Linked DNA regions of Homo sapiens. The protein of the gene in region 2 purifies or fractionates together with the protein of the main gene of each other region. This does not show direct contact. Each region holds a gene or a part of one and is shown on either strand. Other genes may lie near its edges.

Region 1 (7,281 bases), on a different chromosome or scaffold from region 2:
CTCATGTATGAGTCTCTCCAGAGACTTAGGTCTAGTTTAAGGAGAGTTTTTTTTCTTCACTTGTCCCTTTTTGGATATTAGTACTCTGGAAATCAGTCTGGGTGGAGGGGACCGATTTATCTCAGGTTCATTAATTATCCATGTCACTTGAAATATATGTACATTGGAATAAAACCCAGCTGAGTTGATTGGGTCGTGTCTCTAGTATTTGAGTTTAGCGTGGTTATGCAAGAGAGTCATTGCCAGAATTCCTGCCCTTAAGATCCATGGCCATACAGTTGATTCACCACCCACCCTCAGGGAAGCGCCCTTATCATAAATGGTAGTTTGGACTCAGAGAAATTGCTATTTGGGGCAGCTAATTTAAGCATATTTGTTAGAATCAGTATTACAGACTAGTTTCTAGCAATCTTAAATATGGTCAGTGTTGACTATCATTCATTCTTACTCCGTTCTGTTTACTCTTTCCTAACTTCACATCTTTTCCCTTCCTCCTCAGACACATAGGTATATTGTCGCACCTTGAGGACACTGTGTCATTGCAGAGCCTGTTCTCCAGATCAGTCATTCACATGTCTTTCACATGCAGAGTTTTTTCCTGTCAGAGGTGATCTAAGAGATCGAGGCCCATCTGCCTGGAATGCTCACGGATGTGCATCAATATTTGCATGCATTCCCAAGTCAGCAAAAGATCGGCAGTGTGGAAGCCGGAAAGATTTCAGTCTCAGCTAGAGTAGGGAATTGGGCTGCTTTGGGAAAGCCCGCAGAGTAGGAGATCTTGAAGTTAGATGAAAAGCAGCTGTAGCAAGTGATAGGAAGAGGCACTGGTTGGATTGACTCGTCTTGACTTTGGGCCACACGGGAAAGGACAGTACTGTCACAGCCTCCGTGTGCATTTAACTTTTTTACTCTAAATATAACACAACCAGAATCTGCAGGGCTGAAATTATTTATATACATATCCACACACTCATGGGATTCTTATGTATAGCCAGGTTGGAGGATCACTGATAGAGCAGTGCTGATCAGTGGCCACAGAGAATGGGAGCAGGGACCCCACTCTCAGAGTATCAGAATCCCTGTATTAGCAATTTAAAAAAACAGCTTAATTAAAAAGTAACCTAAGTCATCAATACAGTGAGAGAATAATACACCATACCCAAGCAAGGTAAATTTCATAGTGAGAAGAGAGTTCAGTATTTGGAAATTTATTATTGTGTTTCATTATGTCACTGATTCACAACCATAGTGTTCCTTCTTTTTAACAATCACACACCTAGTACCCCTTCTTTGTAACAAATATTTTGAACTCTTTGGCAACCTAGAAATAAAATGCACAGATAATGTAATCTTTCTGGGCATATAGTTTAATATATATATAATGTCCTAACATTTTATATTTACATGTATATATACTTGTGAGTATGTCTCTAGCCTTCACAGTTTGCTCTGTTGTATGACTTGTAGGGAATTGAAAAGTAGGTCTTCAGAGTATATTTTTAAAGGGCTCCCACAAATCAGTTTAGAAGGAAATAATTACTTGCAAATGGTATTGGGACAGTGTGTTAGCTACAGTCACTGGGCAAAACATTTGTTTGGTTATTCACCACACATACACTAAAAGAAACTGCAGATGGACGAAAATTAGATACAAATAATTTTTTTATGTTTAAAGAAAAATAAGACCAGGCATGGTAGCTCATGCCTGTAATCCCAACAATTTGGGAGACTAAGGAAGGAGAATTGCTTAAGCCCAGGAGTTTGAGACCACCCTGGACAACATAGCAAAACCCCTTCTCTACTAAAAAAAAAAATATAAATAAATAAATAGACTTCCGGAAAAGGTGGAATTTTACATCTTAAAAAAGAATGGAAGAGCAGGCACGGTGGTTCGCACCTGTAATCCCAGCACTTTGAGAGGCCAAGGCAGGCAAGTCACTTGAGGTCAGGAGTTCGAGACCAGCCTGGCCAACATGGTGAAACCCCATCTCTACTAAAAATTTAATAATTAGCCAAGTGTGGTAGCGTGGGCCTGTAATCCCAGCTACTCGGGAGTCTAAGGCAGGGAATCACTTGAACCCAGGAGGTGGAGGCTGCAGTGAGCTGAGATCATGCCATTGCACTCCAGTCTGGGTGACAGAGCAAGACACTGTCTCAAAAAAAATAAAACAAAATGAAAGAATGGTAGAACTCTCAAAGGAAAATACTAATGCATGTAACTGAAACTGAGAACTTAAAACACATCCAAATAAATGATCAAAAACAGATCTCCCACACAAAACAACTGGGAAACCTTGATTTAGAGAATGTTACTTTGGTTGGGATGATTGTGTGTGTATGCGTACATGAAATGCATTCCAAAATGGACACAATATTTTGGTCCTGGAGGGGAAAGTATGTTTTACATGACAGAAGTGAACCCCAAAATTCATCCAGCTGTCATTGGTCATCTGGACTGCAGTATTTATTTCTGGCAAAGTAGTGTTTGAGGCCATGGCAATACTAGGGGTTCCTGTCATTGTTGATAATAAACTCAATAGTCAAAGGAAACAGTGCCTCTTTTTTTTTTTTCTTTTTCCCTTTTCTTTTTATTTTTGTGAACCTACAAATTAGCTTGAATTATTCAAAAATAATTTACTTCTGTTCAGGTCACTTCCTACCACTTTCCTTTCTTACAGGAATTTATGAGACATATGCTAACACATATACATACCCTCTTAGTGTTGTGCTGCCTTTCTATACCTGTGGTTTAAATAAAGAGCAAAAAAGGTAAATAATATTATACAATTAAAATGAAAACACGGCCAGGCGCGGTGGCTCACGCCTGTAATCCCAGCACTTTGAGAGGCCAAGCCGGGCAGATCACAATGTCAGGAGATTGAGACCATCCTGGCTAACACGGTGAAACCCCGTCTCTACTAAAAATACAAAAAATTAGCTGGGCGTGGTGGTGGGTGCCTGTAGTCCCAGCTACTTGGGAGGCTGAGACAGGAGAATGGCGTGAACCCAGGAGGCAGAGCTTGCAGTGAGCTGAGATCGCACCAATGCACTCCAGCCTGGGCGACAGAGCGAGACTCTGTCTCAAAATAAATAAATAAATAAAATGAAATAAAATAAAATGAAAACACATTTTGCAAATCCCTAACTTAGAGCTGGCAGTCTTTTCCTGGCTATTAAGCAAAAATATCACAATCCCCTTCACCATTGTTAACTTCATGCTTTGTTAACATCTATTTATCCAGTTTCTGTGGTCTTTGATTTGGCACTGCCTCCTGCCTGCTTTTTTGGCTAGTTCACTGCTAATTAACGCCTCTCTCACAGAGTAGGCAGGAGAAATCAAAGGCCCTAAATTTCAGACTGGCCCTGTTTGCTCTTTGTTAGCTTCTCTAATGAAAAGTTTCATGGGGCTGATTGGAATCTTGGTATTAAACAGAGTTTGGGGGTGATCTAAGGACTTTATTATCGATGCTTTTCCTATTTTCTGTAATTGAAGTTGGCTGTATTGTCATTGGAGAAACAGACAAAATGGAAGAGTATACCACGTTGGTATTAGGGAACTTAGATTTGCGTCTTAACTAGGCCACTTAGCCACATGGCTGGTCTTTCTCTCCCATGTGTCCTACCCATCTGCGATGGTGCAGTTAGATAGGTTGCTCTCCCAGGCCCCTGATGTCTCTGTATCCTGTCGTTGCCTCCCTTGAAGGTCATGAAACGAGTGCGTACCGAGCAGATTCAGATGGCAGTGTCCTGCTACCTCAAACGCCGGCAGTACGTGGACTCAGATGGTCCCCTGAAGCAAGGACTGCGGCTGTCACAGACTGCTGAAGAGATGGCGGCCAATCTAACAGGTAATGGTGGGGGCTCGTCTGGTGGGGTGAGCCTGGAGCAGGAGAACTCACGTCAATATCCATGTGGAATTACTTCTCCTCTTCTCAAGACAGTGCCAGAGAGAGCAGACTGACCAAAAACCTCAGTGAGCTACGTTAAGTGAATGATGTTGGCCTCAGAGACCCTGTCTGTCATTTAGAGCGGTGCTCACATTGTCACTTCTGATAACCTCTGTGATTCCCCTGGCTAAAGTCATTTCCTTCCTCAGGACTTCTCAGTTACTTTATCTGTACCTGAAAGTACGTGCAACTTTTTCCTTCTGTAAACAATTAACCTACAAGACCCTTAGGGACAGGGTCTCCCTCTGTCCCCTTCTTGCACAGGTCCCCTCTCCTCCAGCATGGAGCCTCACATGTAGAAGTCAGGTTTGTTGAATAAATTGGTACTTCAGGATCTGTAGTTGGAAATATTATTATTATTATAGACACATTCCTGAAGTTTTTTTAATTTGTTTTTGTTTTTTAATGTTTTGAAATCCGATTCTATTTTAGAAAAACTTGAGTTGACTCCATCTGGATTAATAAGTATAGTCATCCCTCAGTATCCATAAAGGATTGGTTCCAGGACCCCTCCATGAATACCAAAATCCACGGATACTCAAGTTCCTGCCTGATAAGATGTGGTATAATATTTGGCATAGCAGGTTACATCTACAGACATCCTCCTGTATTCTTTAAATTGTCTTTAGATTACTTATAATTCCTAATACAGCCTACATATCACCTCATTCACATGGATTCATCATAGTATTCAGCACCTGGTAAATTCAAAATTTGCTTCTTGGGACTTTGGTGGTTTTTTTCCCCAAATATTTTTGACTTGCAGTTGTTTGAATCCATGAATGTGAAACCCACAGATACAGAGGGCCGACTGTAATTGTTAGCTATTTTGTGAGTTCATGTTTTTATGTAATATGACTTTATGACTTTCTTCTTCTTCTTCTTCTTTCTTCTTTTTTTTTTTTTTTTTTTGAGACAGAGTCTCTCTCCATCACCCAGACTGGAATGCAGTGATGCAGTCACAGCTCACTGCAGCCTCAACTTCCCAGGCTCAAGTGATCCTCCATCTCAGCCTACCAAGTAGCTTGGACCACAGTCATGCACAACCACCTGGCTAATTTTTTTTTTTTTTTGCTTGTTATTCTTGTTAGAGGTGGGGTCTTACCATGTTGTCCAGGCTAGTCATGACCTCCTGGCCTCAAGTGATCCTCCCACCTTGGCCTCCCAAAGTGCTGGGATTACAGGTGTGAGCCACTGTGTAACAGGACTTTCTTTTACTGAACTTATTTACTAGTGATTCTGGGGGAAAAAAATTGCTGGGATACTTTAGGGTGATTATAAACTACTTCAATGGCTGTGTGTGGAGGTGGAGTTAGCAGTGATTTCTGCAGCTCAGCCCTGGTTCCCTTTCTTATATGCTCAGGCTACATTCTTCTCTCTTCTTTGTTCCTGGGCTTTCTGTGATCTTCCAAATATCTTTCACCACGTGCTCCATTTCTTAATGGTTTCATCCTCCATCCTAGTAGCCGCAGTTACCTCAGCTCCCTCTTTTCATATACCTTCAAAGTCAAGGACCCAGGGTTCATTGCCATAGGAAGAGAGTGCTAGGACAGTAACAACCTGAGGATGCTCTCAAAGGAGTGGTTCCTGACTTCCTCTGAAACACTAACAGAAGCCCAGTCAGCAGCCTGCCATCACGTATTTCAGGGTTGGATCCACCCATTATTCCTTGCCTTCAAACTCCTCAGAGATACCCTTGACCAAAACAGGGCCAGATGATGGCCTTGGTATAGAATACTAAGTGCCTTATTGTTTGAATAGGGGAGTCCATTTACAAGGCCTCTGTCCCATTGTAGAGTAATTCCTTCTGAACATGCCATCCTAGCCATTTAAAAAATCTGCTGCCCTGCATCCTTTGGAACCAGAGAGCAGTAATTCTTGCTGTTGTTGATAGAAAGTAGGAATGAACAATATTAAACAGACTTCCAGAACTTTGCTCGTCTAAGTTGTCTTAGTTTCAATAGAATAGCTTATTAGGAGAAAGTGTTATTGCTGGAAAACCACCAGGAAAAGTGAGAAACATGAAATATGATTATCAGAAGATTTTGTCCTAGATTTTTCCATTAATTGAGTAATCTGAAGAATTCTTTTTTCAGCAGACATTTAGTGAACATCTGCTATAGGCCAAGTGCTGAAAAGTTCTAGAGATAGCTACGATTTGACCCTAGCTCTGAGAAGCTAAGTGTTCTAATTGGGAAGTGAGGCAGGTAAGTCAGTGATTGTAGAAGAGCATGAGGTAGTAAGTTCTGTGAGGGGGAGGTTCAGTGGTAGCAGAAAAGATCATCCAAATTAGGCTGGCAAGCCAAGGAAGGATCCCCAAAAGGCCTTGTGATTCCTGACATATAGTTGGGGGTCACTAAATAGTTGAAAGAGTGAGCTGAGTTGCAAAGGAACCATTAGATGTTTACCAGGGAACAAATTGGAGGAGGGTATCCAGGTTTTCAAATGTGAATTTTAGAAAACTCAGTCTGGTGGCAGTATTGATAAGGCAGCCCAGATTAGAATCGAGGAAACTAGTTAAAAGACGCAGTCCAGTGAGAAGTGAGGACAGCCTCAGTTGAGGAAGTGGTAATGGGAGTGGAGAGGAGAGGATATATTTTAGGAATCTGTAGGACTTAGTGACAGAGTAACTAAGCGGGGGGCAAGAAGAAGGAGGAGGAGTCCCTCCCTTGCATGCAGGCTTGCAGCAGGTCCTCTCTTCTGACTGTCTCTTCCTTCTCCTGGAGTAGGTTGGCTTTCCTCTCACCTGTGTTTCCCTTTCTACGTATTTCCTGTTATGGCGCCCTCAGTCCTGCCACATTCATCACCATTTCTCCATCCATATTCCATTGACAAAATGCATTCATGTTTCATTCAGGACGCGGTTAAAGGTGGCTTCCCTTGGTTTTTAGCCACCTTCTTTCCCCGGTGTTCCCCACTCCTCTTGTAAACAGGAGGAGAATGGTTTTTGTTTTTTGTTTTTAGAAAGCATAAACTCACAGATTGGAGATTAAGTGTGTGTTTACATACTGAATATTGAGACTCCAGCCTTGTTTCCCCTGCACCAATTCATATGCCCGGAATACTGCAGCCAGGCACACATGCTCCAGGAAGGCAAGTAAACAATCCTTCCCTGGTGAGTCCAACTTGCCCAAGAAGAAAGACGAAAAGACAGTGATGTTGGGACATTGCTCACCCTGGTCACCCTGGAGGATGAGCCTCACCACCCAGAGTGCCTCACCGTAAGACAGCCAGGGGCCATTGAACCCTAGAAGAAACATATCTCATAAGAAGGGCAGATGGAAAGAAACAGAAGAAAACTTCAAAAATACCTTGTTTTAAATACTTAAGATTC
Region 2 (7,964 bases):
AGTAAAGGAGGCAGGCAGGTTGGTTCTGGGGCAGGAGGTGGTAAGTTCAGTCTGGACCTGCTGCTGGGTTCGAAGGAAGGTACTGAGCAGGGAGCTGGAGTTGCAACCCGCATCTGGAGGGTATCAGTCACACAGAGGGGACAGTGGGGCCATGACAGACAAGGAGGACATCCACGAGAAAGGAAGTCCCCCAGGGAGACAGAAACCAGGGTCAGAAAGACAGAGGCTGGCAGTCTGAACTTAGCTCAGGGCTGAAGCATGTCAGCCACACAGTTCTTGTTTTTTTCCTTTTTTTGTTTTTGTTTTTGTTTTCGAGACAGTCTCACTGTCGCCCAGGCTGGAGTGCAGTGGAGCAATCTTGGCTCACTGCAACCTCCATCTCCTGGGTTCAAGCGATTCTTCTGCCTCAGCCTCCCGAGTAGCTGGGATTACATGCGTGAGCCACCACGCCTGGCTAATTTTTGGATTGTTAATAGAGATGGGGTTTCACCGTGTTGGCTAAGCTTGTCTCAAACTCCTGACCTCAAGTGATCTGCCCATCTTGGCCTCCCAAAGTGCTGGGATTACAGGTGTGAGCCACCATGCCCGGCCTGAAATTAAGTATTAATAATATATCCTGGACAAGTGGAGTGGCTCACACCTGTAATCCCAGCACTTTGAGAGGCCAAGGCGGGAGGATCATTTGAGCCCAAAATTTCTAGACCAGCCTGGGCAACAAAGCGAGACCTCATCTCTACAAAAAATTTAAAAAGCAACTGGCAATGTGGCGCATACCTGTAGTCCCACCTACTTGGGAGGCCAAGGTTGGAGGATCACTGGAACCTGGAAGGTTGAGGCTGCAGTGAGCTGTGCCACTGCATTCCAACCTGGGTGACAGAGCAAGATCCTGTCTCAAAAAAAACCCAAAAAAATTGGGTGTGTATTTTCCACTTAGAGCACGTCTCAATTTGGACCAGGGCTGGTGAGCTACAGGAAGCTAGTGGCCACTGCATTGGACAGCACATGTGTGTAGGCTGAGAAAGATCAAAGAAGCCCAGCCGTGGTAGCTCACGCCTGTAATCCCAACATTATGGGAGGCTGAGGTGGAACGATTACTTGAGCCCAGGAGTTTGAGACCAGGCTGGGCAACATAGTGAGACACCATCTCTACAAAAAATAAAAATTAGGCTGGGCGCGGTGGCTCACGCTTGTAATCCCAGCACTTTGGGAGGCCGAGGCGGGCGGATCATCTGAGGTCAGGAGTTTGAGACCAGCTTGGCCAACATGGCGAAACCCTGTCTCTACTAAAAATACAAAAATTAGCCGGGCGTGTTGGCACGCGCCTGTAATCCCAGCTACCCAGCAGGCTGAAGCAGGAGAATCGCTGGAACCTGGGAGGCGGAGGCTGCAGTGAGCCAAGATCGCACCACTGCATTCCAGCCTGGGCGACAGAGCAAGACTCCATCTCAAAAAAATAAAATAAAAATAAAAATAATTAAAATTAAAATTTTAAAAAAATAGAGAGAAGGGACACTCTGAGATGCTCATTGCAGGAACCCTCAAGGGGCAAGTTGTAATGCCGAAGGCTGCAGATGGGGTGCCACAGTGTTGGAATGGTGAGGTGGAGGGAATATCTTCCTTGGGAAAGAGGGAGACTGGCGGTGTTCCAAAGCCCTGATGGAGTGAGAAGAGGACACCTGGTGGGGAAGGACTGTGTGTGTGTAGGGGGTGTTGAGTGCCAGGTGCAGGTTGCCTGGCCTGGGGCTGTGCGTGCCATCCCCCCAGCTCAGGAACAGGGCCTAGCTCAGGGCAGAGACTGCTGTTCAATAATACTTGTTGAATGAATGAATTATTGATTGAATGATATGAAGAGGATACTCTCCCTCTGAATATGAAAGGGGACAGACCGAGGAGGGGAGGATGAGGTGGGGAGGGGCTTCAGAGGGATGTGAACCCAAGGGGTGGTTGGGGCCTGTTGGAGGATTCCCAGGGGCTGCACCTGCCTGTCCACACCTCCCTCCAAGGCCACCCTGACCCTGATATTACCCCCTCCACCCAGGGCACTTTCCAGCAGATGTGGATCTCCAAGCAGGAATATGAGGAGGGCGGGAAGCAGTGCGTGGAGCGAAAGTGCCCCTGATGGCACTCCTCCCCACACACCTGCTCCCAAGCTCAGATGGAAGTCCCTTAACCCCCATGCCACATTGCCCCCCTCCTCCTTTCCCTCTTGTCCTCATTAATGGTGATGTTTCTGGGTTGAAAGAAGTAAAAATGTTTTAAGAAAAAAAAGTTTGGCCTCCGTGGGGTGGGGAGTGGGCACAGGGGTCTGGAGGGAGGTGAGGGGAGGGAGTCTCACTTCTACACCCATGCCGATCCCACAGTGGGTGCTGGGACACAGCCCCAGGGGCCATGGATTCCTCAGGTTTCCTAGGGGTTGTGACCCAGGGAGGGCCACATGACGAGGACCGGGGGTTGGGGGAGTTGCTGGGGGCTAACAGTTGTGGTGGGAGGTGGGAGGGGCTGCAGGGTGCAGTGGAGGGGCACGGCCTGGGGTGAGTGTGGCAGGAGGTGGGTGGAGCAGGAGGTGAAGCCTGGATGGGCGGAACAGGAGGTGGGGCCTGGTGGGCGGGGCCTCAGCGTAGGCCTTAGGTCTCAGGGGAGCAGCACGCCTGAGCACCCCAGGACCTGCGCTCAGGTGAGATGCGCTATGCCTTCCTTCCTGGGGCTCTTGGTGGTGACAGACATGGGGCGGGGACTAGGGCGCTGGTGCATCCCAGCAGCTCGGAACTTCTCTGGACCTGAGTAGGAGCTGATGTTTCCCAGGGGAAACCCGAAAGGGAAACTTGGTGGGACCCTGAGCCCTCCTCTTCAGAGCTACTTGTCTTGGGGCCCTCGGAAGGGTTTGGGGACCTGCGCCCCCTGCCTGTTTAGCAGTTTATGCCTGTGACATGTTTCTGGGGTGAGGCTAACTGGCCTTTCATCAGCCTCAGAACCCAAAGAGGTAGAAACCCATGTGATCCAAGTCCTTCGGTGACCAAACGGGCCGGTGCCCAGGGAGGACCATGACTTGTCCAGGGTCACCCAGCTCTGCCCACACCTTGGCGGGGACTCTGATCACTCCTCCCCACTGACCCACATATCCCTGACCCCAGGACCCCTATCTGGGAGCTCTCGCTGGTCTCATCTGACCATGTGCTCCCACCTGTGCCCCTCCTTCTCCAGCAGCCAGCAGGAGTCTGAGAACGACCTTTCAAAAGAGACACACATGCACACCACCAGACCAGACCCCCAAGTCACACCACTGTGGTGCCTCCAGCTTAGAATGCCACTGGGGCAAGTGTCAGGACAGGGAGGACAGCTGATATGTCACAGGACCGGGGCACTGGGGGACTCTGAAGGCCAGATGAGGAAGGGGCAGATGTCTTAGGGGTGAATCTTCCACCTGGGCATGGCGGGGCTTAGGAAGGGGTCCCCAGGATCCAGGGAGGGGTAAAAGCAGGAGAGGGGAGGGGGCACCCATGTCTCTGCCCTCCCCCACTATCGGCCCCCTTCCCCCACCCCTGATGGGAACTAGGAGGCCAAAGTCCGCCCCAAGGTCAAAAAATTGATTGTTTTGCAGGGAGGAGGCAGGCGTGGGGCTGTGGAGAGATTGGCAGGGGAGAGCACAGCCCCTTGTGCTCTGGCCTGGACCCGGGGGCCACGTCTGGAAGGCTGGACTGAGGCCAGGACTGTGCCCCCACCCTTGGGGGTGGTGAGGAGCAGCCTTGGTTCAGGCTGCCTGCCAGGACTGATAAGGGGCCCTCCTAGGGCTCCCACAAACGGTTTATCGGTTTATCGCTGGGGGACAGCCTGCAGGCTTCAGGAGGGGACACAAGCATGGAGCGGCTTTGGGGTCTATTCCAGAGAGCGGTAAGACTAGTGGGATTGGGAAGACCCCTTAGGCCTTCTCTCTAAGTCCCTCAGCCCCCTCCCAAGCCCCTGAGGCTGGCCCCTCCTGGACCGTGTCCTGACCTCGCTTCTTCCCACCCCTGCCCCTCCCCCACGCCCCCACCACCATGCTCATTTGACACCCCCAAGTCACTGACCTCATTATTGCCAGATGCCTCCCCACCCCCCAGGCCTCTTGCCCCAATCTCATGCCCACCTCGCCTGCACAGCAACAACTGTCCCCAAGATCCTCTCAGACCGTCTACCAGCGTGTGGAAGGCCCCCGGAAAGGGCACCTGGAGGAGGAAGAGGAAGACGGGGAGGAGGGGGCGGAGACATTGGCCCACTTCTGCCCCATGGAGCTGAGGGGCCCTGAGCCCCTGGGCTCTAGACCCAGGCAGCCAAACCTCATTCCCTGGGCGGCAGCAGGACGGAGGGCTGCCCCCTACCTGGTCCTGACGGCCCTGCTGATCTTCACTGGGGGTGAGAGCCGTCCCCCTCCCCAGAAGTGAAGGGCTTGGGCTGGGGGAGATTTCTGGGGTCCAGAGGTGGGCATAAAGAGAATCCCCATCTTGCCACCCGCCAGCCTTCCTACTGGGCTACGTCGCCTTCCGAGGGTCCTGCCAGGCGTGCGGAGACTCTGTGTTGGTGGTCAGTGAGGATGTCAACTATGAGCCTGACCTGGATTTCCACCAGGGCAGACTCTACTGGAGCGACCTCCAGGCCATGTTCCTGCAGTTCCTGGGGGAGGGGCGCCTGGAGGACACCATCAGGTAGGGATGGCCCTGCCCCATCCTGTTCTCGAGTGTCCCTCCCCTCATCCGCTCAGACTGGGCCTCCCTGCCTCCTGGCCCAGGCCTCTGGTGTCTGGGTCCCCCTCCTGAGTCCTCCCATCTGCCTTCCTGGCCCCCCTGTTCAGCGGTCCTGGGAAGGATGGCAGGCATTCGGAGCTGAGGTTCCAGGGGACTGAGGCTCTGAGGGTGGCATATTTGGGAGGTGAGGGAGCTGACTGTCTGAGATCAGAGGGGTGCAGCATCCAGTATCAGACTGGACAGACCCAGAAAAGCCTTGAATGCCTCACCCAGGCGCCTAGATTTGGAGCAGGGAGCGCTGAGGGGTTCTGAGAAGCCGCATTCTAGGGAATCAGAAAACCAAGCAAGCAAGCCTGGGCAATACGATGAAACCCCGTCTCTACCAAAGAAAACACAAAAATTAGCTGGGGATGATGGCGAGTGCCTGTAGTCCCAGTTACTTGGGAGCTTGACGGGGGAGGATTGCCTGAGCCGGGGAGGCGGAGGTTGCAGTGAGCCGAGATTATGCCACTGCACTCCAGCCTGGGAGACAGAGCGAGACCCTGTTTCAAAAACAAAATAACGGCAGGGTGCGGTGGCTCAGGCCTGTAATCCCAGCACTTTGGGAGGCGGAGGCGGGCAGATCACTAGGTCAGGATATCGAGACCATCTTGGCTAACACGGTGAAACCCCGTCTGTACTAAAAACACAAAATATTAGCCGGGCATGGTGGCGGGCGCCTCTAGTCCCAGCTATTCGGGAGGCTGAGGCAGGAGAATGGCTTGAACCCAGGAGGTGGAGCATGCATTGAGCCGAGATCACGCCACTGCACTTCAGCCTGGGCAACAGAGCGAGACTCCATCTCAAAAAAAAAAAAAAAGAAAAGAAAAAAAGAAAAACAAGTAAGCAAATGCATTTGTGGGTGCAGATCCAAAAGCTAGGTCCACCCATAGCCCTCTTTTGGGACGGGAGTAATTTTTCAGTGGATTCGCCTGGGTTTTCTAAGTAGGTAATCAGCTAAGCTACAGATAGTAGGAGATGGAGATTCTCTTTTCCAATGCTTATACCTTCTACGTTTTTTTTTTTTTCATTTCTCATTGCATTTGAGAGGACATGAATTTAAGGTAACCGTGGCAGTAGGTATCCTTGCCTATTTCCTGACTTTAATAGCAATGCTTTTATAATACTTTGCCATTGACAATGAACTTTGCTGTGCTCCAGACAGCTTTTTAAAATTGAATTAAGGAAGTTTCCTTTCACTCCTAGCTCACTGAGACTTTTATTGATTGATTGATTTTTTGAGACGGAGTCTCCCTCTTATCACCCAGGCTGGAGTGCAGTGGTGCAATCTTGGCTCACTGCAGCCTCCGCCTCCCAGGTTCACGCGATTCTCATGCCTCAGCCTCCTGAGTAGCTGGGATTACAGGTGTGTGCCATCACGCTTGATTAATTTTTGTATTTTTTAGTAGAGACAGGGTTTTGCCATGTTGCCCAGGTTGGTCTCCAACTCGTAAGCTCAAGCGATCTGCCAAAGCGCTTCGGCTTCCCAAAGTGCTGGGATTACAGGCATGAGCCACAGCACCCAGCCTCTTCTTTAATGTTTATATAGTAATTTGTGTTAATAGATTTCCTTATCTTCCTGAGCTCAACGCTAACCTTGATCAAGGTGTATGATTACTCTTTTGATATGTTGCTGGATTCACCTGCTGAAAGACCTTGAGTCTGTGGAATCAACAATGTTCAGGGCTTTATTTTTTTGAGATAGGGCCTCACTGTCACCCAGACAGTGCCGAGATGATAGCTCACTGCAGCCTCCAACTCCTGGACCCAAGTGATCCTCCCACCTTAGCCTTTCAAGTAGCTAGGACTACAGATGTGTGCCACTATGCCCGGCTATTTTTTTTTTTTTTACTTTTTTTGAGACAGAGTTTCACTGTTGCCCAGGCTGGAGTGCAGTGGTGCGATCTCGGCTCATGGCAACCTCCACCTCCCAGGTTCAAGCAATTCTCCTGCCTTAGCCTCCCGAGTAGCTGGGATCACAGGTGCCTGCCACCACACCCAACCAATTTTTTGTATTTTTAGTAGAGACGGGGTTTCACCATGTTGGGCAGACTGGTCTCAAACTCCTGACCTCAGATGATCCACCCACCACGGCCTCCCAAAGTGCAGGGATTACAGGCATGAGCCACCATGCCCAGCCTAATTTTTAATTTTTTTTAGTAGAAACGAGGTCTCCCTATGTTGCCCAGGATGGTCTCAAACTACTGGCCTCAAACAATCCTCCCACCTCAGCCTCCCAAAATGCTGGGATTATAGGAATGAGGTACCGCACCCAGCCTGCTCAGGGCTTTTAAATTAAATTACAGGTCAGGCATGGTGGCTCACACCTGTAATCCCAGCACTTTGGGAGGCCGAGGTGGGCAGATCATGAGGTCAGGAGATCGAGACTATCCTGGCTAACATGGTGAAACCCCGTTTCTACTAAAAACACAAAAAATTAGCTGGGCGTGGTGGCGGGCACCTATAGTCCCAGCTACTTGGGAGGCTGAGGCAGGAGAATGGCATGAACCCGGGAGGCGGAGCTTGCAGTGAACCGAGATCGCGCCACTGCACTCCAGCCTGGGCGACAGAGCAAGACTCTGTCTCAAAAAAACAAAACAAATACAAAATTAGCCGGGCGTAGTGGCGCATGCCTGTAATCCCAGCTACTCGGGAGGCTGAAGCAGGAGAATCGCTTAAACCCAGGAGGCGGAGGTTGCGGTGAGTCAACGTCGTGCCATTGCACTCCAGCCTGGGCAACAAGAGTGAAACTCCATCTCAAAAAAAAAAAAATTAAATTACATTAATTTTTTTTTGAGACAGGGCCTTGCTCTGTCACCTAGGCTAGAATGCAGTGGTGCAATCTGGGCTCACTGCAGCCTCGATTTCCCAAGCTCAGGTGATTCTCCCATCTCAGCCTCCTGAGTAGCTGGGTCTACAGGGAGGGGCCACCACGCCCAGCTAATTTTTCATTTTTCTTTTTTCAAAATTATTATTATTATTTAGGGACAGGATTTATTTATTTTTATATATTTGCAACCAATTCTCACTCTGTTGCCCAAGCTGGAGTACAGTGGCATGATCTTAGCTCACTGTAACCTCCGCCTCCCGGCTTCAGGTGATTTTTGTGCCTCAGCTTCCCAAGTAGCTGGGACTACAGGCGTGAGCCACCATGCCCAGCTAATTTATGATTTTTTTGTTTGTTTTTTGTTTTTTTCTTTTTTTTTG
Region 3 (7,281 bases), on a different chromosome or scaffold from region 2:
GCATATAATTATTATAAATGGAGGAATAAATTCTCCCCTTACTCGTATCTGAGCACCCAATTTATTCTCTATTTCTGGAACCAGATCGACTATGTTGGGGAAGCCACGATTAGCTGCTGTTGTTCAGATGAAGCCAGATGGAGTGCAGGTGGGCCGAGGAACTCACCAAGCGGGCACGGGGGTTGCGATGGTAGTAGAGCTCTTTAAATTCATCCATCCATACTTCAGCTGCACGAACACTGTTGGCCAGAGCCTTGTTGCGGGAGTAGGGAGCTTGCTTGGGGAAAACATGGCCAACATGGGAACATGGGTGTGTTTCCAGAACCCCACCACACTGCCAGATCTGCACACAGAGAAAAGGAGAGGCCAGGTGGTGAGCAGGGGATGAGCTGCGGGTCCATAGTATCTGCAGCAAAGAGGCCAGGCACACGCAAGGCATGATGGACACTGCCAAGATGCTCAGCCTCCATCGGGCAGGAGGCCACCTACCCGGCACACTCATGACACAGAATGTGGGTAAAGAGCAAGAAAGCAGCCCCCAAAACATATAAGCTGTGGGAACCAAGACCCCAAAGTCCATGCACTAAAGCTCATGCACTTGACTCACAGGAGCATCCACAGAGACCTCGCTGGCAACCCACTTACTCATTACAGAAAACACAGGCTTGATTACCTGATCTCCTAGCCACAGAAGATAGGAAAGCAGCAAGGAAGAAAAGAGGTTTGGAAGGGGGAAAGGAAGAGCGTCTAGAAACAGGTAGAGCAGCCTGACACCTAAGGAAGAGGCAGAGAGACCATTAAAAGCACACCCAAAGACTCAACAGGCGAAGGCATCTGAGCCCATCTCACACTGGGACTGACAGCCTTGAATATCTCATTTTCCCAAAGATGGGACAACCAAGCACAGCATCTGGTACTTATTACAGAGGGCGTGAGTCCTCGGTAGAAGGCCAAATTCTTGTTTATTCAGTTTTTATGAGGGCAGAACACCATATAAAATATTATTAAAAATCTTAATTTTCCACTGAAAAGCACCAACATTTACACAAAGTTTTGATGCTTAAAATGTAAGACTTCATTAACTGGAAAATCTACTGAAATGCTAGGAGTTTTCCAATACGGTTTTCACGGGCCATGTAGAGTAGCATCAGTAGGAAGGCTTGTTACAAAAAGCAGAATCTTGGTCCCACCCTAAAGCTATCAAATCTAGCTAGAATTCTAGATTGTGCTTGTGAATCTGTCTTTCTAACAAGTTTACCCAGCAATTCTTACATGTGTTGGCTGGGTGCAGTGGCTCACACCTATAATCCCAGCACTTTGGGAGGCCAAGGCGGGTGGATCACCTGAGGTCAGGAGTTTGAGATCAGCCTGGATGACATGGTGAAACCTCGTCTATACTAAAAATACAAAAATTAGCCGGGCATGATGGCACATGCCCATAATCCCAGCTACTCGGGAGGCTGAGGCAGAAGAATCACTTCAACACAGGAGGCGGAGGTTGCAGTGAGCTGAGATCGTGCCACTGCGCTCCAGCCTGGGCGACAGAGCGAGACTCCGTCTCAAAAAAAAAAAAAAGAAATTCTTACATCTGTCAAAGTTTGAAAGGCACTGTGCTAAATAAAGAGGCCACTTCATAAGGAATTAATCAAGTAAAGGCTCCAGAAGACAGGATCAGGAGGAACCTAACCCTGAGCAAGTCACCTCTCTCCTGGTTTCATTTCCTCCTCTCCATAGAGTGAGAGAGAACTATGTGACTCGCAAGGCCCTTGCTGGCCCCAAATCTAGAAAAAGTACACTTTTTAAAAAGCTAAAACAAGAAAGCAAGCATGTTTATAGGATATGCGTGTCATCATCTTTCAGGGTCCACCAGGCTCTTACAGCAAATCCCATCGTTCCCAAAGAGAGAATCAGTTAAGAACATGTCCAAAGAGAAGACTGAAATACTTACCCTAAAGGAAAATTCGAGGTTTTCTCCTCCCCAAACTTCCATTCCTGTATCATAAGACCCCAGATATTCAAAATATTTCTTACTCACAGCAAACAGCCCACCAGCCATTGTTGGAGACCTAAAAAAGTATGATATCCTTATTTCACTGTAGACAGCAGAAAACCATCACAGTTATCCAACTACCTTCCCACCACGAGCCCTTTCATCTGTTCATCTGTCATCTCTAAGCATATCCCGCCTTCACCTCTGTGCCCCACACTAGGCTGGGCCTGGAGGCATAGATGTACCCTACGGTCCCTGCCTTGAGGTGGCTCCCAGGCTTCTCAGCAGGTAAGTACTATGTGTGTGCTAAATATGTTAACTAAGGTCAGCCAGGGCCCTGGGAGAACACTGAGGAGGGCAGGGGCAAAAGGGCAGGACTAGGTTCCCTGGAGGAAGCAAGGTCTGCAGGACAAAGGACAGTTAGCCAAGAAGAAGAAGGGAAATGGAATGGTTCTCCAGCATGAGCAAAGGCTTAAGGGTGGGAGAAATCCAGGGACATTTAGAAGCATAGAGAGCAAGGAGAAGAGAGAAGCAAGAGACCACGTTCCGAGAAGAAGGCAGGCTCCAGGCCATGGTCATCTGAGGAGGTGTGATCTCACAAGGCAGGCACTCACAGATGCCACTCAGAGGCCAGTATGCAGAAGGCCCTAAAGGCAACTCTGGCATCTGAAAGTGCCCCGAGGGCCAGGTCCTCTTGAGTGGTTTCCTCCACTAGGACCCAGCTAGCCAGCCTCAGGCTGCTTTTTCAGCCAGCCTTGTTTCCCGCCACCCACCACCAGGTTTATCTGGAAGCCAGCACTAACCAGAAACGGCCCACGGCTTCCAGCCTACACGGCAGAACACTGTAAGGTCAGCACGTCCCAGAGTTGCACAGGCAAAAGGATGAATTCAGAAATAGGGAAAGGGCTGGGCACGGTGGCTCATACCTGTAATCCCAGCACTTTGGGAGGCTGAGGCGGGCAGATCTCCTGAGGTCAGGAGTTCAAGACCAGCCTGGTTAATATGGCGAAAACCTGTCTCTACTAAAAAAATGCAAAAATTAGCTGGGTGTGGTGGCCCACAGCTATAATCCCAGCTACTCAGGAGGCTGAGGCAGGAGAATCACTTGAATCCAGGAGGCAGAGGTTGCAGAGAGCTGAGATCATGCCACTGCACTCCAGCCTGGGTGACAAAGCGAGACCCCAACTTGAAAAAAAAAATAGGGAAAGAGAACATTGAGAGCGCAACCACTGAAAATGTTAACATCCTGCAGCATCGGGGCCTGCCCTGGACTCCAAGCATGGGGCCAACTGAGAAGACAACAGCAACATCCCCAGTGGAAGGGAAGGTTCTAGACTACAAAGCACCTTCACGTGTGTTTATCCTAAAAATCTAGGAAATAAGCAGGGTGGATATGCTGGTACCTATTATACAGATGAGATAACTGAGGCACAGGGATATTATGGGATGGGGAGGATAGGTGCCCTGAGCATGTGGGGTAACGGGGCAATTAGAATTCATGGACCCCCATGAATTCATGACAGGCTGCCTAAGTAGCCTAGATTAGAGCCTCCTGCTCTGTGTCTCAGTTTCCAAACCTATTCAGTGAGGGATTGAGCAGGATGTTCTCACTAAGGGCTCCTACAGAAGCCTGGGTGCCATTCTTAATTCCTTCCTTCCCCAATTCCCACTCAATTTCTTCCAATTCTTCCATCTTAACATCTCTGGAATCCACAGTGCCCACCATCTCCTGAACCATTGTTTCTGACCTGGAAGACTGCAGAGCCTCCTAATGGTATCCCTGCCTACAACGGTCCCCCCAGGGCCCTCACCACATGGCACGCAGCACATGCTCAGGTCACTTCCTGCTCCGATCCCTTCAGTGGCTTCTACCTGCTCAGGGTCAAGTCCAAACCCCTTCCCTTGGCCCCGCCCATCTCTCCAGCCTTATCTCTGGACACTCTCCTTGCTTGCTCCACTCCTGCCAGCAGCGGGTCATCTTAAGGTCAGGACTCTGGTGAAAGAATTCAGAAGCCCAACTGCCAAATGTGGACGCAAAACTCAGAGCCTACTTCCGGTTCAACACACCAGCGGTGAGGCTGAAGTCCTGACCTCCTCCTGCCCAACTCCCACATCTGTCTCCCACTTGCTTCTGAACTTGGAAGGGGAGGAAGAAGCCAGGCTATCACTTCAAAACCTCCAGAATGAGAGCTGCTGAGCCTCCCTTGGGCCCATTCTACTCAGAGCTTGACTCACCCACTGGCCAGAGCAGACTCCTCCACCTGCCATGGATCCACCCACACCCCAGGTCAAAGGGGCCTAAAGATGTTTCCTCAAGAATGAGCATATGACCAGCAATCCCACTCCTAGGTGTATACCCAAAAGAATGGAAAACAGGGACTCAAGCAGATAAAAGTACACCGATGTTCATAGCAGCATTATTTAACAATAACCAAAGGACAACCCAAGTGTCCACCAACAGAAGAATGGATAAACAAAATGTAGCATATATGTACAAAGGAATATTACTCAGCCATCACAAGGAATGATGTTCTCTAGGAAACTTGAAAACATGATGATAAGTCAAAGAAGCCAAGTACAAAAGGACAAATATTGTATGATTCCACTCACATGGGGCGCCTGAAAGAACAGAGGTTCCCAGGGGCTGGGAAGGGGAGAATGGGAAGTTATTGCTTAGTGGGGATATTTTCTGTGTGGGATGATGAAAAATTCCTGGAAATAGGTAAAGATCATGTTTGCACAATACCGTGAATGTGCTCGATGCCACTAAAATTGCATGCTTTGTTTTATTTATTTATTTTTTTATAGAGACAGGGTGTCACTCTATCGCCCGGCTGCAGTACAATTGCGTGATCATAGCTCACTAAAGCCTTGAACTCCTTGACTCAAGCGATCCTCCTATCTCAGCCTTCCAGCTAGCTAGGCCTACAGATACACACTAGCATGCTCAGCTAATTTTTATTTTTTTGTAGAGATAGGTTCTTGCTATGTTGCCCAGGCTGGTCTCAAACTCCTGGACTCAAGCAATCCTCCCACCTTGGCTTCCCAAAGTACTGGGATTATAGGCATGAGCCACCATGCTCAGCCTAAAATTGCATACTTCAAAATGGTTAAAATGGTAAATTCTCTATGATGTATATTTTACCACAATTTAAAAATTAAATAAATAAAATATACCGATATAAAATTGACATGTGTAGCAGACACGTTTAATAAAAATAAACAAATACTCTGGGCAAAAAAGTGGGAAGAGGGGAGGTAGTTAAGCTGACAGCTAACCATTCCTCCCGAGGGCCTCCGCTCACAGGTCAGCCAGATTCAATGAGGCATGCTTAAAAAACAAGTCACCCAGAAGTCAGCTCCTGACCTGATGACATCGACGGGGGATTGCATCCGTATCCTCTCCCTCTCAGGAACTGTGTGCCACGTGAACACCAGCCTCCAGTCGAAACCGCCGATCTGGGGCTCCCCGGAGTTCCCCAGGTATTCGAAGGTGTTCCAGTCGATCACATCAATCACCGGGCACACCACTGCCGACTCCTCTTCATGGATCCTGAAAGCACCCAAGACATCCATCCGTCTCTCCTATGCAGACGGGCAGCAGGAAGACAATTGGGAAATTCAAGGGTGAATTCTTGTCTTCCTTCCAATAAGAGGGAGGAACATCTGAGAAAGACCTGCTTCTCTTATTCCAGGTGTCTGCAGCCGTGTCAGAGCCCTGGCAGGTGACCACCATGGGGGAGATCTGGGGGCCACGGAGGGCTTTAAAACAAAAAGTCCCATGACTTTAATATGCTCTGATTCTATCCATGGACATTCTGACCAAACGCTCTATGATTTCAATTTCTCAGAAGTGCAAGAGGTTTAATCACAATGAAACACCTTAACATCAAGAAATACTTATCTCCTAAGAACAAAGGTGCACCCAGACCAAAGGGTCAGCTTTGGAATTAGAATATAAATTCTAATCCTGCTATTTATTTGTTGTGTGACATTAGCCAAGTCACCTAACTTCAGAGCCTATTGCCTCAGTGGTAACACTGGAATTATAATATCCATTCAGAGGGTTAATGTGAGGACTTCCTGGGAAAATGTTTTTAAGATAGCTGGCAGAGAACCTGAAACTATTGCTATTTTTTTATTTTAATGTTTGTTATTGTGAAATATTACATATAGTGAAAAATGCTATAATTTCCTTTTGCAGGTATCAGCCTGTGTGTTGGCTTCAACGGTTCTCTCCACATTATTACAAATCTGGCCATCCCTCAGCATGCTTCCAGGCCGTGTTTCTTTGCATTTGCCACTACACCAGGAAAGATGGACTGAGACTAGACCACGTGTGAACACTAGATTTCCTTGAGTACATTTTGGGGGACGTTGTCTGGAATTTGAGACCTAAAAATCCTAAGAGTCCTGCCACACAGGACAGTGCAACAGAGATCAACCAGACTTGAGCTTTCGGTGTCCTTAGAATGACACCAGAAAGTCAGAGGGGATATTAGAAATACCACTCTGGGGTAAGAATTACAACTATCGGGAAATTGCACTGTTCAGAACAGGTTGCGTGAGACAGGGTCTTAGATCTGTGAGTTCCCCAAATTGAGGAAGTTGCATACTAGGTATCCACCAACATCCGCTTATTTAAAGCAATTGAGGGCATTATTTAAAAGGTTGAAAGGGCCAACATCAGACCTGCTGGGCAAGTTCTAGCTGGCCCCTGGCAAAGGCCAGCTCCCCCAGGAACTGATGGCTTGTGATCAAGCTGGCTGGAACCACAGAAAGCCTAATTTTTACAAGGAGGGGAAAACTAGGGGAATGCTGTACCAGCATTGGAGTATAGGACTCCCAGTCGTGGCTGGAGAATGTGCAGGACCCACAGGGATGCTATTGGCATCTGGGCCAGAACCATTCTCCACTGAACAGGGCTGATCTGCAGGATACTTGGCCTCCCTGATACACAAAATGCCAGGAGCCCTACCTGGTTGACATGACAACCAAGAATACCCTCCCACATTTCCAAAAGCCCCTGGATGGAAAGGGTTACCACTCCTGTCTGGGGCCACCTTAGGGAGAGTCCACAGTCTGATGTGTCCCAATGCTCGTGCACACCAAAGTCCCCTGGGGAGCTTTTGAAACATGCAGAAGCCGAGGCCCCAGCCCCAAGAGTTAGATCCAAATGGGACCAGGCATTGGTGTGTTTAAAAAGCTCCCCAGGTTGAACCCTCACACACCGTTGGTGGGAATGTAAATTAGTACAACCTCTATGGAGAACAGTTTGAAGGTTCCTCAAA
Region 4 (7,281 bases), on a different chromosome or scaffold from region 2:
AAACTGAGTTCTCGCCTACTATTTAGAGATTAGTGTTAGCATCTGTTGTTGGTTTTTTTTTTTGTTTTTTTTTGTGGGGGCCGTTGTTGTTAAAGGACACGGAATATGGGGAAGAAAAATACTGCCTATCAAACTTCTAAAAACGGATCAAGGCAATGGCAGTAGATTTTAAGCAGATGTTTTTCTACCATAATAAAGTTAACAAAAAATTATTGTAAGTTCATTTATAGGATAATTTATTACTCATATGCCAAGCCTGTGTATTAATAACTTTTTAAACCTAAATGAGCTTATTTTCTCATAATGTGCAGGTGTGTAGTTCACCTCACTTTAATTAATGTTTGGTAACTAACCATGCAGTCTTCGCTGTCAAATATTTATATGCCTTTCAGTTATAAACTCCAATGCACTAAAAGCTCAGAGACTCCGAGGAACTCCTGAAATACCCTTATTTGAAAAAAATATTTATCTGAAAGTTACAATGAATGGAAACATCTAGTAGAGAAGTATTGTTTTTTTTTATTTTGGTGTTGTTGTTGAGACGGAGTCTCACTCTGTCGCCCAGGCTGGAGTGCAGTGGCACAATCTCGGCTCACTGCAAGTTCCGCCTCCCAGGTTCATGCCATTCTCCTGCCTCAGCCTCCTGAGTGGCTGGGACTACAGGTGCCTGCCACCATGCCCGGCTAATTTTTTGTATTTTTAGTAGAGACGGGGTTTCACAGTGTTAGCCAGGATGGTCTCTATCTCCTGACCTTGTGATCCACCTGCCTCGGCCTCCCAAAGCGCTGGGATTACAGGCGTGAGCCACCGTGCCCAGCCAGAAGTGTTGTTATGACCTAATGCCAGTGTAGTTACATTTAGTCACACGTTGCTTATCGATGAGGATACAATGAGAATACCAGGACACGTTCTGAGAAATGTGTTGTTAGGCAAGTTGATCACTGTGTGAGTATCATAGAGTATAGCCTACTACACACCTAGGCTATGTAGTATAGCCTATTGCTCCTAGGCTACAAACCTGTACAGCATGTGGCTATGCTGAAATACTGGAGACATTTATAACACAAGTATAGTATTTGTGTATATAAGTACATATAAACATAGGAAAGGTACAGTAAAAAACACAGTGTTCCATAGCTGAGGGTGGTGGTGTGTGCTTCTAGTCCCAGCTGCTTGGGAGGCTGAGTCAGGAGAATCACTTGAGCCCAGGAGCTTGGGACTGCAGTGAGCTGTGATCCCTCCACTGCACTCCAGCCTGGGCAACAGAGCAAGACCCTGTCTCTTAAATAAATAAAAATGAAAGTTAAACAACAACAACAAACAAGTTTTAGGAGTTTTATAGACTCCACCCACTCACCCAGATTAACCCCATAAATAAATAATGGACTGTTAGCTAGACACTTCATGTTCTACAACTCAAATGAGTTAGTTAACTCCTCTGAGCCTCTGTTCATTCATGTCCGCAGTAGATATCAGAGCTGTGTCCTTTCTTCATATGTGTGTTAGGAGATAACACGAAAGCTTTCATGGAAACACTTGGAAATTAAGGTGCTATAGACAAATCCTTTAATTAAAATAGAAAAAAATACATTCTTTGGTTGATTTGAAATTTTGTCTGAAGTAGATGTTACGCTACTTGGTTTTAGGAATCTTTTTTTTTTTTTTTTTTTTTGCCTGAGACGGAGTTCACTCTTGTTGTCTATGCTGGAGTGCAGTGGCACTAACTCAGCTCACTGCAACCTCCGCCTCCCAGATTCAAGCAATTCTCTCGCCTCAGCTTCCTGAGTAGCTGGGGTTATAGGTACGTGTCACCACACCCACCTAATTTTTGAATTTTTAGTAGAGACAGGGTTTCACCATGTTGGCCAGGCTGGTCTCGAACTCCTGACCTCAGATGATCCACCCGCCTCGGCCTCCCAAAGTGCTGGGATTACAGGCATGAGCCACCACGCCTGGCCAGAATCTTTTTATTATATGCAGATTATTTCATAGATAGGTATTTTATTATAACAAGATTTTAATTGCGTGTGTATAAATGATAGCACTATATATAAAATATATATATAAAATATAATATATATATATATATATACTTTTTTTTTTTTTTGAGACAGAGCCTTGCACTGCACCTCCCAGTCTGGAGTGCAGTGGTGCAATCTCGGCTCCCTGCAACCTCTACCTCCTGGGTTCAAGCGATTCTCCTTCCTCAGCTTCCCGAATAGCTGGGATTACAGGTGCACACCACCACATCCAGCTGATATTTTGTATTTTTAGTAGAGACAGGGTTTCACTGTGTTGGCCAGACTGGTCTTGAACTCTTGACCTCGTGATCCGCCCACCTTGGCCTCCCAAAGTGCTAGGATTACAGGCATGAGCCATCGTGCCGGGCTAATAGCACTATATTTTAAGATGCTTTGGTTTGCTATATTAGTGGTTATACCTTAAATTGTTGAAACATATCTTGTAAGTATAGATTAGGACTCTTGAATAGAAAATATTTAGGGGAACTATCTCATATTTTGCATGAATGAATGTTTGTGGTTGCTATGGGGATGATGAAGTGTACAATTAAAGATAATTGGATGGTTTTTAAGAAAACTCTCAGAAGCGTTTTGTGTAAACAGTGGTAATCTTGTTAAATCCCATTAAGATAAATCCAGAACATCAACGTGAGTATTAAACAACAGATTCTACATATTGGGATGTTTGTGGACACCACAGAGTAGGGAAAGGAGCAAGAAAGTCTCTAACTTCTTAGTGGATTATGTGGTTTGTTGGTTTTTAACTTGACTGAAAGCACTGTTGGCCGGGCGCAGTGGCTCACGCCAGTAATCCCAGCACTTTGGGAGGCCGAGGCGGGCGGATCACGAGGTCAGGAGATCGAGACCATCCTGGCTAACACGGTGAAACCCCGTCTCTATTAAAAACACAAAAAATTAGCCGGGCGTGGTGGCGGGCGCCTGTGGTCCCAGCTACTCAGGAGACTGAGGCAGGAGAATAGAGTGAACCCGGGAGTGGGAGCGTGCAGTGAGCCGAGATAGCGCCACTGCAGTCCAGCCTGGGCGAAAGAGCGAGACTCCGTCTCAAAAAAAAAAAAAAAAAAAAAGCAAGCACTGTTATTTGGGAAATGCCTGGTTTTTAGAGACAAATGAACAGAGATTTCAGCAGTGTAATTTCAGTCTTGACATGAACTATGACCAGAACTTTGAGCCGATGTGGTTTTTTGTGTGTGTGTGTGTGTGTGTGTTTTTTTTACAGAGTTTCTGTCTTGTCGCCCAGGCTGGAGTGCAGTGGCACGATCTCGGCTCACTGCAACCTCCGCCTACTGGGTTCAAGTGATTCTCCTGCCTCAGCCTCCTGAGTAGCTGGGATTACAGGCGCACACCACCATGCCTGGCTAATTTTTTGTATTTTTAGTATTTTTAGTACAGATGGGCCTTCACCATGTTGGCCAGGCTGGTCTCGAACTCCTGACCTCAGGTGATCCACCTGCCTCGGCCTTCCAAAGTGCTGAAATTACAGACATGAGCCACCATGCCTGGCCCTGTTGTGTTTCTTATGAATTTTTGACATTTTAAATTTTTAAAAATTCAGGTTCTTATTTCTAGTGCTAACTAAACTATAATACTTAAACTTTCCAGGATCTCTGTTTCCATTTGTAGCATGCAAGTATTATATTCTAACTGAAGATTATTGAGAGCATTTTCTTTAACTTCCACAATGTGGTTGGTTCTTACTTGATTTCTTGGTAGAACGTTAATAAGTCAACTCTATGATGGGGTTTTATTACTTTGTGTGTGTGTGTGTGTGTGTGTGTGTGTGTGTGTAGCCAAATGTTGTTTATTTGAAACCCATGTGATAAAAGTTTTAAAATATTAATATCCTCGCTATTTTAGGATGCACATTCACAAGGTGAGGTGGTATCATGCTTGGAGAAAGGCCTGGTGAAAGAAGCAGAAGAAAGAGAACCCAAGATTCAAGTTTCTGAACTCTGCAAGAAAGCCATTCTCCGGGTGGCTGAGCTGTCATCGGATGACTTTCACTTAGACCGGCATTTATATTTTGCTTGCCGAGATGATCGGGAGCGTTTTTGTGAAAATGTGAGTCAGCTCAGAAACTGTTCTTTTCTTCCTTTTATTTTTACACATATATAATTTTGTTTTAATTAATTTAATTGTGTTGTTTTTTGAGAGATTGAGTCTTGCTATGTTGCCCAGGCTGGTCACGAACTTCTGACCTGAAGCAGTGCTCCAGCTCAGCCTCCCCAATTTTTGAGACAGGATCTTGCTGTGGTGCCCAGGCTGGAGTGCAGTGGTGTGATCATGGCTCACTGCAGCCTCCAACTTCTGGGTTCAAGCGATTCTTCTGCCTCAGCCTCCCAAGTAGCTAAAACCATAGGCAAGCACCATCTTGCCTGGCCAATTTTTTTAAAAATTTTTTGTAGAGATGGGGCATTGCTGTATTGCCCGGACTGGTCTTGAACCCCTGGCCTGAGGTGATCTCCTCCCTCTGTCTCTGAAAGTACTAGGATTATAGGCACGAGCCACTGTGACTTAAATATTTTTTAATACTCTATTCTAACGTAAAATAAGCCATCAAGAAACCTCACATGTAGAAAAGCCACAGAAATGGAAGAAGAAATTGGTCCCAGTATAGCAGAAAGTGGTAACTGGATGCTCAACCTTGATGACTGAACATTTGGTTAACAGCTGGCTTCTAATGATCTCCACTTAGTATTTTTTCTGCTTTATCTCACTTCTCAATTTCAGTTCTTGGAAGTCTGTTTTATCTATAGGAATTTTATTTTACCCAGGATCTTATTTACATCTATTCAATGGCTAAAACTTTGACGCATTATATATTTATGTGTTTTTGGCTAAGGTGAAGAAAACAGCAGGTGGCTAATCTTTAAAACCAAATCCTTGATTACCACCTGCTGACTCTACAGAACAGCCTTCTAAGTCTTTAAATAGAATGGTCTCTCCATCCTTACAACAAAGTACTGAAAGTAACTTGTGTACACTTCCACTCTGCCTGCTGGTTTGCATTAACAGCTTTAACCATCAGAGCCACTGATGTAAGAGTTTCGTTAACTCTAGCATACACTTGTAAGAAAGAAGACTCAGAGGCTGGGTGCGGCGGCTCACGCCTGTAATCCCAGCACTTTGGGAGGCCGAGGCAGGCAGATCACTTGAGGTCAGGAGTTCGAGACCAGCCTGACCAATATGGTGAAACCCCATCTCTACTAAAAATAAAAAAATTAGTTGGGCAGGGTGGCGGGGGCCTGTAATCCCAGCTACTTGGGGCTCTGAGGCAGGAGAATTGCTTGAACCCAGGAGGCAGAGGTTGCACCGAGCTAAGATTGTGCCACTGCACTCCAGCCTGGGCAACAGAGCAAGACTGACTCTATCTCAAAAAAAAAAAAAAAAAAAAAGACTCAGACTCTAACACTTCTCTTGGTTCCCTAATTAACAAAATACATCTGAGAACAAATGACAAACTCCAAATATCATGGGAATATTTTTTTCGTCTTTACTGCAGTCACTGTTTTTGTTAAAAGCCTATTAAATTTTATAAATGGAAGCGCTGTTTGTCCAAAGGTATGTACGATTATAATCGTTTAATAGAAAGCTCTATATGAGATTGTGGATAATGTTCAGCATAACTATTTAGCTAAAGTAATAATAATGTGTATGTTCCATCTTATAGACACAAGCTGGTGAGGGCAGAGTGTATAAGTGCCTCTTTAACCATAAATTTGAAGAATCCATGAGTGAAAAGGTAAGTATTATTTTGAAACTAATGAATGTTTTATTTGTTTTTTAAAAGCTTTCTCAGCCAGACACGGTGGCTCACGCCTGTAATCCCAGCACTTTGGGAGGCTGAGGCAGGTGGATCACGAGGTCAGGAGTTCAAGACCAGCCTGGCCAAGATGGTGAAACGCCGTCTCTACTAAAAATACAAAAATTAGTCGGCCGTGGTGGTGGGCGCCTGTAATCCCAGCTACTCGGGAGGCTGAAGCAGGAAAATCACTTGAACCCAGGAGGTGGAGGTTGCAGTGAGCTGAGATCGCACCACTGCACTCCAGCCTGGGTGACAGAGTGAGACTCTGTCTCAAAAAAAAAAAAAAAAAAAAAGCTTTCTCAATTTCTCTGAAACAATATTTCTTATAATCTTATACCGAAACGTAAATGACTGATAAAGCTCACCGCTTTCAGAGGTGAGGTACTTGGGTTTTAAGCATATTTGGCTGAAACCAAGAAAATGAAACCCTGATTGTGATATCTAGATAGTGAGAAGCCAAGTAGGGTTCTCACTGTGGTGGTTTTTTTAGGTGTTTTTGTTTTGTTTTGTTTTTGTTTTTTTTTGAGTGGAGTCTTTCTCTGTCACCCAGGCTGGGGTGCAGTGGCATGATTCGGCTCACTGTAGCCTCTGCCTGCCGGGTTCAAGCAAGTCTCCTGCCTCAGCCTCCCTAGTAGCTATGACTACAGGCACCTGACAACACGCCCAGCTAATTTTTGTATTTTTAGTAGAGACGGGGTTTCACCATGTTGGCCAAGCTGCTCTCAAACTCCTGACCTCAGGTGATCCACCCGCCTCTCACTGTGGTTTTATATAAAATCCTCAGTGTGATTTTATATAAAATTCTCAGATATTACTTTGTTTGGGGAGTAAAATCAGAGAATTTTATATAAAACCACACTAAGGCCAGCCCTGCCTCCTCAAGAAGTTTAGGTTAACCAAATCAATGTGCTTTCTAGGCAATTAGCTATTTAATTTTTCAGCAGCTATATCATTAAGCATCCTCTTTTAGTTCTTTGTCCCTGAATGAATGCAAGAATAGTTGATGGCTTTTGAAATAATTAATTTTGCTATCTTGTCATTTACTTTCCTGTGTAGCTGAAGAAATGTTTCTCATTTCCTTTTTCTTGTATCATTTGAACAATCTTATTCAAATCTTATTATTCAGATGATATAGAATAATTGAATAATTGTATTTTAAAGCATTGAACAGAATATCCCAAATGTTATGTTAGTTGCCAGTTTGATGCTAGTGAAATTTATGTTCGGGGTATTGTTAAAGTGGAAAAGAATGCTGTGTGTCAAGTTAACATATTGGGATCTGTGAGATATTTACATGTTTTGGATAGCTGCTATTGCAGCAACAACTAGCAAGTGACTACAGAATTTCTAGGTTCCCCACCCACTTACCCCTGTCTCATGCCACACTAGTTTAGCTCAATTGTGAACATTTTAACCAAACTTAAAGATAGATATGTT

Evidence for each region.
Region 1: the proteins of TFR2 (region 2) and TAF5L purify together in Homo sapiens (affinity purification with mass spectrometry; one large-scale study listed by BioGRID and IntAct). This does not show direct contact.
Region 3: the proteins of TFR2 (region 2) and GALNT12 purify together in Homo sapiens (affinity purification with mass spectrometry; one large-scale study listed by BioGRID and IntAct). This does not show direct contact.
Region 4: the proteins of TFR2 (region 2) and GLG1 purify together in Homo sapiens (affinity purification with mass spectrometry; one large-scale study listed by BioGRID and IntAct). This does not show direct contact.

Annotation. Positions count from the first base shown.
Region 1 is NC_000001.11:229,610,908-229,618,188, reverse strand, and holds part of TAF5L (TAF5-like RNA polymerase II p300/CBP-associated factor-associated factor 65 kDa subunit 5L), read left to right. Parts: intron 1-3,703; 5' UTR 3,704-3,706; coding exon 3,707-3,848; intron 3,849-7,281. UniProt on the Homo sapiens protein: Functions as a component of the PCAF complex. The PCAF complex is capable of efficiently acetylating histones in a nucleosomal context. The PCAF complex could be considered as the human version of the yeast SAGA complex.
Region 2 is NC_000007.14:100,637,401-100,645,364, reverse strand, and holds the start of TFR2 (transferrin receptor protein 2), read left to right. Parts: upstream 1-3,812; 5' UTR 3,813-3,855; coding exon 3,856-3,888; intron 3,889-4,136; coding exon 4,137-4,389; intron 4,390-4,492; coding exon 4,493-4,679; intron 4,680-7,964. Other genes in the region: ACTL6B (actin-like protein 6B), read left to right, coding at 2,039-2,119. UniProt on the Homo sapiens protein: Mediates cellular uptake of transferrin-bound iron in a non-iron dependent manner. May be involved in iron metabolism, hepatocyte function and erythrocyte differentiation.
Region 3 is NC_000009.12:98,830,034-98,837,314, reverse strand, and holds part of GALNT12 (polypeptide N-acetylgalactosaminyltransferase 12), read right to left. Parts: intron 5,576-7,281; exon of another isoform or gene 5,567-5,575; coding exon of another isoform or gene 5,544-5,566; coding exon 5,358-5,543; intron 2,067-5,357; coding exon 1,949-2,066; intron 344-1,948; coding exon 167-343; intron 1-166. UniProt on the Homo sapiens protein: Catalyzes the initial reaction in O-linked oligosaccharide biosynthesis, the transfer of an N-acetyl-D-galactosamine residue to a serine or threonine residue on the protein receptor.
Region 4 is NC_000016.10:74,493,260-74,500,540, reverse strand, and holds part of GLG1 (Golgi apparatus protein 1 isoform 3 precursor), read left to right. Parts: intron 1-3,896; coding exon 3,897-4,100; intron 4,101-5,709; coding exon 5,710-5,781; intron 5,782-7,281. UniProt on the Homo sapiens protein: Binds fibroblast growth factor and E-selectin (cell-adhesion lectin on endothelial cells mediating the binding of neutrophils).